Regions from separate parts of the Homo sapiens genome. Here regions 1 and 3 are each linked to region 2. Evidence: fine-mapped QTL for protein levels in blood plasma. A gene starts in region 2. Each other region holds a variant in brackets. All regions are shown on one strand. Distances are between the middles of the regions.

Region 1 (2,500 bases), 37 kb after region 2:
CAGACCTCCTTGCCCCGTTTGGTCTTGAAGCTGTGGGGGAGAGAGGGCACAATTAGATGGAAGACTTTGAAGATCCTGCACAGGACTGTGGGCCATTGGTCCCTAGAACTGATCAGCCCTTGGTCCTTAGGTGAAGGACCCGGACCCGGGAGAGGAGGGAGGGGAAGAGTGGGAGGAAGAAGCTCCAGAAGGAAGCTCTGCTCTTGCTGTCCAGGTGAAACCCTCCAGGGTCCTGGCTACAGATATTGGGTTAGTTTCACCAAGCCCCTAGAAGGGAATCCTAGAGCAGTTATGGACTCCTTCTCATGGACTGAGTTTCTCTATGGGGTAGAGGGGCCCTTTGGATAGAAGTTATATGCATCCGACTCATATGGACATGAATCTTGACTTCTCTATGTTGTCCATCAGAACTTTTGAATGGGGGTGCCAGGCACTGTCCACTCACATCACAGCTTCCTTGGGACATTGGATGTTGGTGATTCTTGTGTAGCTCTCCAGCCTCTGGATAGGAATTTTCCTATTGATCACGTTAAAGCAGCAGGTGATTGGAATGGAAACTGAATCTGAAAGAAATTTTGCAAAGAATGAGACATTTAGGACCCACCGTAAGTGTGCATTTGTAAGGAAAAGAAGAGAAGGAAGGAGAAGACCAAGAAGTCACCATCCCAAGTTCAGTGTCTTAGTCCAGATCCCAGAGATAAAATGTTGCCTGTGAGTCTCTTTCCTCTATTGAACTCTGCGGCCCGTCATTGTTGACTGGGTTTGGAAACATTTTGAGTAACAAGCTAGTCCTTGTCTACTAACCCAAAACTTCTGACACTGGGAACATAAGTTCCAATACCTTGCTTCCCAGTCTTTCATCCTCATGGGCTTTAGAGTTAGCCTATGCCATACGCTGAGATTCCTCTGGGTCCTCATCCTCTTTACACAGCCACTGTTCTGGAAGGTACACTGAACCATAACCAAAATTTGAAGCTTCAGGCAATAGTTTCTCCCTCTCCACTACGGCCTGAAATGTCCTTTACACCCACAGTGAGAAACAGTTCTTCGTTCTGGATTATTTCCCCAAACAATGGGAGGGTTGTTGCTGTAGCGGCTCCACTGTCTCCTCCCAAAACTGGGGTCAGGAAAGATCAAGGGAACCAGCCTCAGTGACCTGAGCCTTTAGTTCTGGTTTTGTTCCTAATGAGCTGTGACATAATGGCTCTTCTTAATTCCTCTTTTGGTCTCCCCTTAAAAAGGGAGAGGTCTTACCTGGCTGAGCAAGTCCCTGAGGGCTGAAAGTGGCTGCCATGAGCAGCAGGCACAGAAGCGCTGCAGAAACCTTCATCTTGGAGGGCAAGGGTGTGAGCTTCAGCATGAGAGGTGAAGGTTTCTGGGTTGTTCTCAACCTCTCTGCTCCTCGGTGGCTCTGCCTGCCTTTTATAGGGAGCAGAGAGCCTGGGCATGGTCACAATCAAGGAAGAATGAAGTAAGACCTTCCTTGAATATGCTGAGTAAGCACCAGATCCTGGGATAATTTCCAGATAACAAAACAAGGAAGTTGTGAGTTTCTA[T/C]CTTTTGCTTAGGCTCTGTGGAGCAGAGGCTGAAGGGTATGGGATTGTGCTCAGCAAAGTGACCTCACTGAACTATTAAGGGCTCTGATTTCCTTGAAATGGAAAATTGTCTATAAGAAAGGAAGAATGGAAGCTGACGTCATAGTGGAAGAGAGCCAAGGGCCTACCCCTCTGTGGGTAACAGGAGGCCAGGGATGGGCCCTAAGGCTTTGCTGGTGCTCTCCATCACACTAGAGTCACTTGCAGTTCTAAGCCAGGCAAGCTCCTTTAGAACCCCAGCCACAGAACGTTGGCAGAATGACAGAATCCTGGAACTAAGTCTTAATGCCCCAGAATCTTACTGTTGCAGAGGGTAAGAACTAGACAGCACATGCTGGTCTTGTAGCATGGTGGTTTCCAAACATTTTATTTAGATGCTCAAGTTTCTTTCCAAATGAAATTATATGGAGAAGTCCAATATGTCATGGAGATTCAGGTGGAATGGGTCCGTCTGCAGAAGGCCTTCCAACTCTCTTGGTTCACACACAGTGGGGCTGTGGGCGGGGCGTGGCAAGAAGGAACCAGGTTTGCAAAAGACTGACCTCATCTACTCCCCCTGCAGGCCTGATCTATCCATCATTACAATATCATATAGAAGTTTTCCTGCTCTAAGAATTCACTGTATTCTTCTATTCATCCTTTTTCCTCTCCACAAATCTCTGGCTACCACTGATCTTTTTACTATCTCTGTGAGCTTGTCTTTTCCCAAGTATCATATGCATAGTTGGAATCATATAGTAGGCAGCCTTTTCAGACTGGCTTCTTTCACTAAGCAATATGCATTTAAGGTTTCTCCGTGCCTTGTTGTGGTTTGATAGCTAATTACTTCCTTTGTTCTTTATTCATTTATTATTTTTATTGTGGTAAAAATGCACATACCATCTTAACCATTTTTAAGTGCATAG
Region 2 (2,820 bases):
ACACAGTCTGGCTAGATCTCATCCTAAGATCTCAAGTCAGTCTGACGTCTGTCTCCTGGGGCAGAACTTTGGATTGGGGAATGTGGGAGTGGGGAGGAGCCAGGTGAGCAGGGATTTTTCTACCCACATGACAGCCTTCTGGGGACACCTGCTGGTGGTGATCACATAGCTCTTCAGCCTCTGCAAGGAGATCTTCTTACTGCTAAATGTGAAGCAGCAAGTAGATGGGACGTTGAGTGCATCTAGAAATAGTTACAAAGAAAAAGACTTTGAGGATGTGTTAGGCTTTTCTCAGCTTGAATACAGCAGGGAGCATCTGTATGGGATGCAAAGCAAAGAGGAAGAAATAGATCTTACTCACCCCCAAGCCCAGCACTCCCACCCTAGACCCTGAGGTGAGGTGGGACCTGTGACATGTGCCTCAGGATCTCAAAGGCTCAGCTGCATGGTGGAGACATGTCACAGCCATCTAGGGGAGGCCACGGGCAAGGCCAGTGGGAAAGGTCCTGGGTGTGGTCCCAGATCTGCAGAGTTTGGGACGATCAGATGAGGTCAAAGAAAAGGCCCTAAATCTGGAGTCAGAAGCTTAGGTTTCATTCTTGCTCTGCAATAACCTGGAGGTGGATGGCTAGGGTCCCTTCTGCCTCCAACATGGGCTTCAGCTTTCTATCTTTAAAATTAGATGTTAAAGTGAACCTCTGAGGAGCCTTACTATTCTGGTGGGCTTAGAAGTGGGGCACTTGGCTGGGCCTGGTGGCTCACGCCTGTAATCCCAGCACTTTGGGAGGCCGAGACGGGAGGATCACTTGAGGTCAAGAGTTTGAGACCAGCCTGGCCAACATAGTGAAACCCCTTCTCTACTAAAAATACAAAAATTAGCTGCACGTGATGGCGGGTGCCTGTAATCACAGCTACTCAGAAGGCTGAGGCAAGAGAATCGCTTGAACCTGGGAGGTGAAGGTTGCAATGAGCCAAGATCGCACCCCTGCACTTCAGCCTGGGCAACATAATGAGACTCAATCTAAAAAAAAAGTGGAGGAGCACTCGGGCTTAGGTCTTCCTTGAATAGAGAAACAGAGGGAAAGAGAGGGAGAGTCGAAGGGAGGTGACTTACCTGGCTGAGCAAGTCCCTGGGGGTTGAAAGCTGCTGTCATGAGCAGCAGGCACAGAAGCACTGCAGAGACTTTCATGTTGAAGGTTAAGAGTTGGAGATTTCACAATGTTTCTTTGCCTCTCTGCTCCTCTGGCTGTTCCGCCGGCCTTTTATAGGGAGTGGAGAAGCTTGGAACTCTCAGAGGACCTTGGCCTGAGCAGGGCGTTGACCAAGTCATGATGAAGGGGGATCCTGAATCTGCTGAGCTGGAGCTGGGCACCAAAGACTTTTCTAGGAAATGCAAGAGGGAAGCTGAGGGCTGAAACAGCATGGCATGGCTTCCTTCTGGCTGTTCAGGCCACAAGGAGCCAGAGAGGAGAAAGGGACACAGACGCGCCCCAGCCATTCACCATGGGAAGCCATAAAGGAGCTGTTTTCTTCTTACTTTCTCCAACAGGAAAGAGAAAAACAATGAAAATTAACTCCTGTAGAGAAAGAGTGCTGTGCTAAGGACTCTGTTCACGTTATATATTTAGTTTGAGGAGGTACATACCATTATTATCATGCCCATTTCATAGAAGAGGAAACGGATGCAGAGAGATTAAATAACTTGACCAAAATCTTATGGGAAATGAGAGGGAAAGCTAGAAGAGAAAGCTGGTCTGCTTATATTTTATCACCAAGGCAGTTTCAACTTTTGTTTAGCAGCAGAAGTCTTTTTCCAAGTCAACTTTTATGTGGAAGTCTAATATCTGAAACAGATTAAGTCAGATTTCTGATGACAGGGGCTCCTTACATTACATATTGTGTCCCCTTCTGCCCCTCAGGCCCAGAGGGACATGGTTCAAACACCTCTGATTGATGCAGGCCCCGTGTTTCCAGGAAGGACCATTGGGTTTCTAGAGCTGTTGATGGGAGGGCTGGGGTGGCCCTCAGAGCAAAGAAGTGAGGTGTTTGGCCCATTCCTGGGCTCCTCCTGCGAGGGGCACATATCTGGGAGCTGGGAGGTGGGGAGGGAATGGCTTAAAATGGTTGAACATGTCCCTTTCCCACTCATCCCTAGCTCCAAGACTTGGCACAGTTTTTGTGCCTTCCTGGAATACTCATCCCTCTGCATTCCACTATAGCAAAATAAGCCCAGTGAAAGTAAAGGGAAGAAATAAAGAGCTAGGATTAGAGAAATAGGAAACAGTAAATATTAGAAAGGATAGATGAAGCCCAAAGCTGGTTCTGTAGCCTATAATTAAGCTAAAACTCTCCTGAACTGAAAATGAAAAAAAAAAGAAAAAAGGGGCTGAGGCGGGGGGATCACTTGAGGTCAAGAGTTCTAGAGCAGCCTGGACAACATGGTAAAACCCTGTCTTTACTAAAAAAAATACAAAAATTACCCAGGCATGGTGGCACATGCCTGTAATCCCAGCTACTTGGGAGGCTGAGGCAGGAGAATTGCTTGAACCTGGGAGGCCGAGGTTACAGTGAGCCAAGATTGCACCACTGCACCCCAGTCTGAGTGACAGAGTAGGACTCTGTCCCAGAAAAAAAAAAAAAGAAAAGAAAAAAGGAAAAAGGTACATATAACCAGTTGCAGAGCCTGCAGACACCAAAAAGAAAATGATAAGAACCTTATGCCAAAAATTTAGTTTAGAGGAAATGGATGAATTTCTTAAAAATCTAACTGACCAGGGTGCACAAATAAATAAAAAATAGAAAGTCATTCTAAAGCTATT
Region 3 (2,849 bases), 110 kb after region 2:
ATGTTGCATGCCAAAAAGGGGAAACTTCAGCCACTTAAAAAGGCTTCTTTATTAATGATTTCAGTCGGCTAGCTGGTGGAGCCCCACATTGCAAAGCACTGGCTCCATTCAAAAATCCTCTTGCCTTTACTGTAAATTAGAGTCTGAGGAAGGAAGCTGAATAAAAATGCAAATAGTATTTGTCTAATGAGTCAGGAAAAATAGTTTTCCAAAGCACACACATCTCTGACTTAAGTGCAGGGAGTTAAAAACAAAGCATTATCAAATAATTCAACTATGCAACTTATTTATTGCTCACGGATGTGGCCATGGTAATGAGAGAAACTTTACAAGTGCACTGTTCCCCTTGGAGCTGTTTGTAATGGAGTCCGAACAGCAGGTGTGTAGGTGTCAGACAATGTGGGGCACGGACTTTTGTCTGTCTAGTTTACTCCTGCATCACCAGCATGAGGACCTAGCATCAGATGCTCAATAAATATGTAAATTAGGAAGCAATCAGAGCTGGGAGGTGTGATAGAGATCCCAGAGTTGAAAATCCCTGCACCACTGCTTAATGTAAGATGGGGAAATAAAGTTGCCCAGGATTATAGCGTTAGCGTCAGTGCCAGTGCTAGAGTGCAGACAAGCTGTATGTGTGTGTGTGTGTGTGTGTGTGTGTGTGTGTGTGAATGTGTGTATGTGTCTGTTGGGGGAAGTGCGCGTGACCTAGATCTTAGCATTTTCCAACAGGAGTGCCAGTTACTTGTGTCCCTAAGGAACACTTCTTAGTTTATAGAAACCTTATTCAAGTAGAAACAGGCACTTGTAAATAGGCACTCATTGTCCTGGAGAAAGGGAGAAAAAAACCTTTGGGGGCCCAAAGACTGGAGATAGGAGAAGAAATGGATACATTTGCTCAAGGACCAAGAGACCTCCTGAGAGGAGAGAAATTGAGGCTTTTTCTTCTGAGTCCAAAATTATTAGCCACGGAGAGTGTGGGGAGGTTCCAACTGGATTGGTCGCCTGAGTTCAAGGCCATGGCAGAGAAATCAGTGGGTGACGATTGAGGCGGGAAGACCTCTGCACCTGCCATGTTGATGCAATAGTCCTGCTTTGAGAGCAACAGCCAAACCTGCAAGTGCAAACTCAAGAGGCTGAAACCTAGGGGGCCCAAGGATGACACTGTGGCCAAGGCTGGAGGAGGTACCATGAGAGCAAGGAACAGGAAAATCTTTAGGTGGTGTGAGGCCAGGGATCCATAGGTACCCTGGGGACAGTGACAGAAGCAATGGCAGTCAGGAGTCCTGGCCACTGGTAAGAGGGTCAGGTTACCCAGCTTCCACTTTGCTTGAAACTTAGCAGCAAAGCTTTCTCAGCTTGACTGAATAGGTCCTCAAGGTTCTGGGGACACTGTAAGGATGTTGGGAGGGGGCTTAACCATGAATTACTAGACTTCCTCCTAATATGGACAACCTGGAGGCCTGGGAATTAAATGAACATAATGAGAGAGATGTGAACTATTTGTACCCCGAGGTGACAAAAAGGACTATGCAAGTGACACACAAATATTTATTTATTATGGCTAGTTCGCTGCTCTAGCATGTCCTTAGCCCACATTTGTCCCATGTTCTGCTCCCAATGCAGTTAGGATGTATTTACATTCCAAAATTATGGCATTAGCCTTGTCATTATGCAATTCTGATTTCATGACAATAAACATTAATTTTAAATA[C/T]TTACTGAATATCTTCTAGAACACCTGTGCAGTTAACAAGGAAAGATTTTAAAATTGTGGGTCATGAGATGCCAAAAACCACAACCCCTTATGTGTCCTCTATGATTCATTAAATCATGGGATTCCCACAAAGCCATTGCTATGTAGGTGACACTGGTGTCATTTCCTTGTTTTATAGACAGAGAAATGAAGCCTTCGAGGTTGACTTGCCCAAGGACAAGGGAGCTGGGGACTGGAGGGGTTGGGATTTAAATTCACGTGTTCTCACTCCAAGCCCAATCTTCTGTATGATCTACCATCCAAGTGTTTTTTTCCTTGAAATCCGTGCCTTTTCTTCTCCTGCTTATTTTCTTTTCCTTTCATTCTAAGGCTCCCCTTTCAAGGTCACCTGCACCCATGCTGTAAATGGAAGGCTTGGTAAGGAGCAGAAGGTTAAGGGAAGGAAATATTTAGGGAATGTAAGTTCTCTAGTTTCCTCTGGGTCCCTCTTCAAGTGAACTTATCACCACTTCATATCAGCCTTGCTGCATGGCCACCCTTTGGACTTCGTCATCTCCCTGAACTTCTCCATTTTGTAATGTTCCACTTAGTAATCCAGTCCTTTGACCACAGCCTTCTATTTCCTTCCCCTTCAGCAACTCTGAATCTACTGCATCAGCTCCTCCAGGTCCCTTAGCCCCTACCTGGCTTCCTTTCCTCCCCAGTCCAGCCCAGTGTTGACCACTCTCCTACCAGCATACAGATGCTCTCATTTCTACAATTCTATCTCCACACCTGCCAGTGCCCAAACCCAGGTCATCGGATCATCTTCCCCCTGATTCCTGACCACTCCCAGGCTGTTGGGCTTGCTGGAAGGCCTGGATATCTTTAAGGACAAGAGGTCCACAGATGCGACAGACTCCTCAGTGCTGCTGCTGTTCCGCAATGTGCCCCTAGTTCTTTGGCGCTGCCATACTCCACAGTGGCATTCCACACCTTCACCCTTCCCCTAGCATCTTGGGCTCCTGTCTCAGGCTTCAACATTCTCAGGAGACAGCCTCCTCCCCAGTGAAGGCAGAGGCTGTGAGATAAGAATTCTCTCCATGCCCATCCCGTGCTCATATCAAAACTTAACTCCATCTTCACGTGATTACAGCTC

Alleles and levels. Positions count from the first base shown, and alleles are read on the strand shown. Strength reflects both the effect of a copy and how common the allele is.
For the plasma level of the protein whose gene starts at base 1,237 in region 2, allele T in region 1 goes with a lower level than allele C (weak association).
As copies of T replace C in region 3, the plasma level of the protein whose gene starts at base 1,237 in region 2 goes up (strong association).

Evidence for each region. A credible set is the group of variants that fine-mapping cannot tell apart. PIP is the posterior inclusion probability: the model's chance that the variant is causal. The UK Biobank Pharma Proteomics Project read protein levels with antibody pairs (Olink). The fine-mapping took linkage between variants from a reference panel, not from the people measured, so its PIPs are less certain.
Region 1: its variant is the best candidate, but not a certain one, in a credible set for the plasma level of the CCL13 protein (UK Biobank, PIP 0.81).
Region 3: its variant is the best candidate, but not a certain one, in a credible set for the plasma level of the CCL13 protein (UK Biobank, PIP 0.53).

The regions. Positions count from the first base shown.
Region 1 is chr17:34,318,332-34,320,831 of GRCh38, reverse strand. CCL8 (C-C motif chemokine ligand 8) reads right to left here and starts at 1,397. Exons shown (of 3, transcript NM_005623.3): 1 at 1,255-1,397; 2 at 446-563; 3 at 1-30. The coding sequence starts at 1,330. The variant T/C (reference allele first, on the strand shown) is at 1,557.
Region 2 is chr17:34,354,897-34,357,716 of GRCh38, reverse strand. It overlaps CCL13 (C-C motif chemokine ligand 13), which reads right to left and starts at 1,237. Exons shown (of 3, transcript NM_005408.3): 1 at 1,115-1,237; 2 at 128-242. The coding sequence starts at 1,190.
Region 3 is chr17:34,246,089-34,248,937 of GRCh38, reverse strand. No RefSeq gene overlaps it. Among named protein-coding and RNA genes, the nearest start is that of CCL2, 7.8 kb to the left of the region's middle. The variant C/T (reference allele first, on the strand shown) is at 1,712.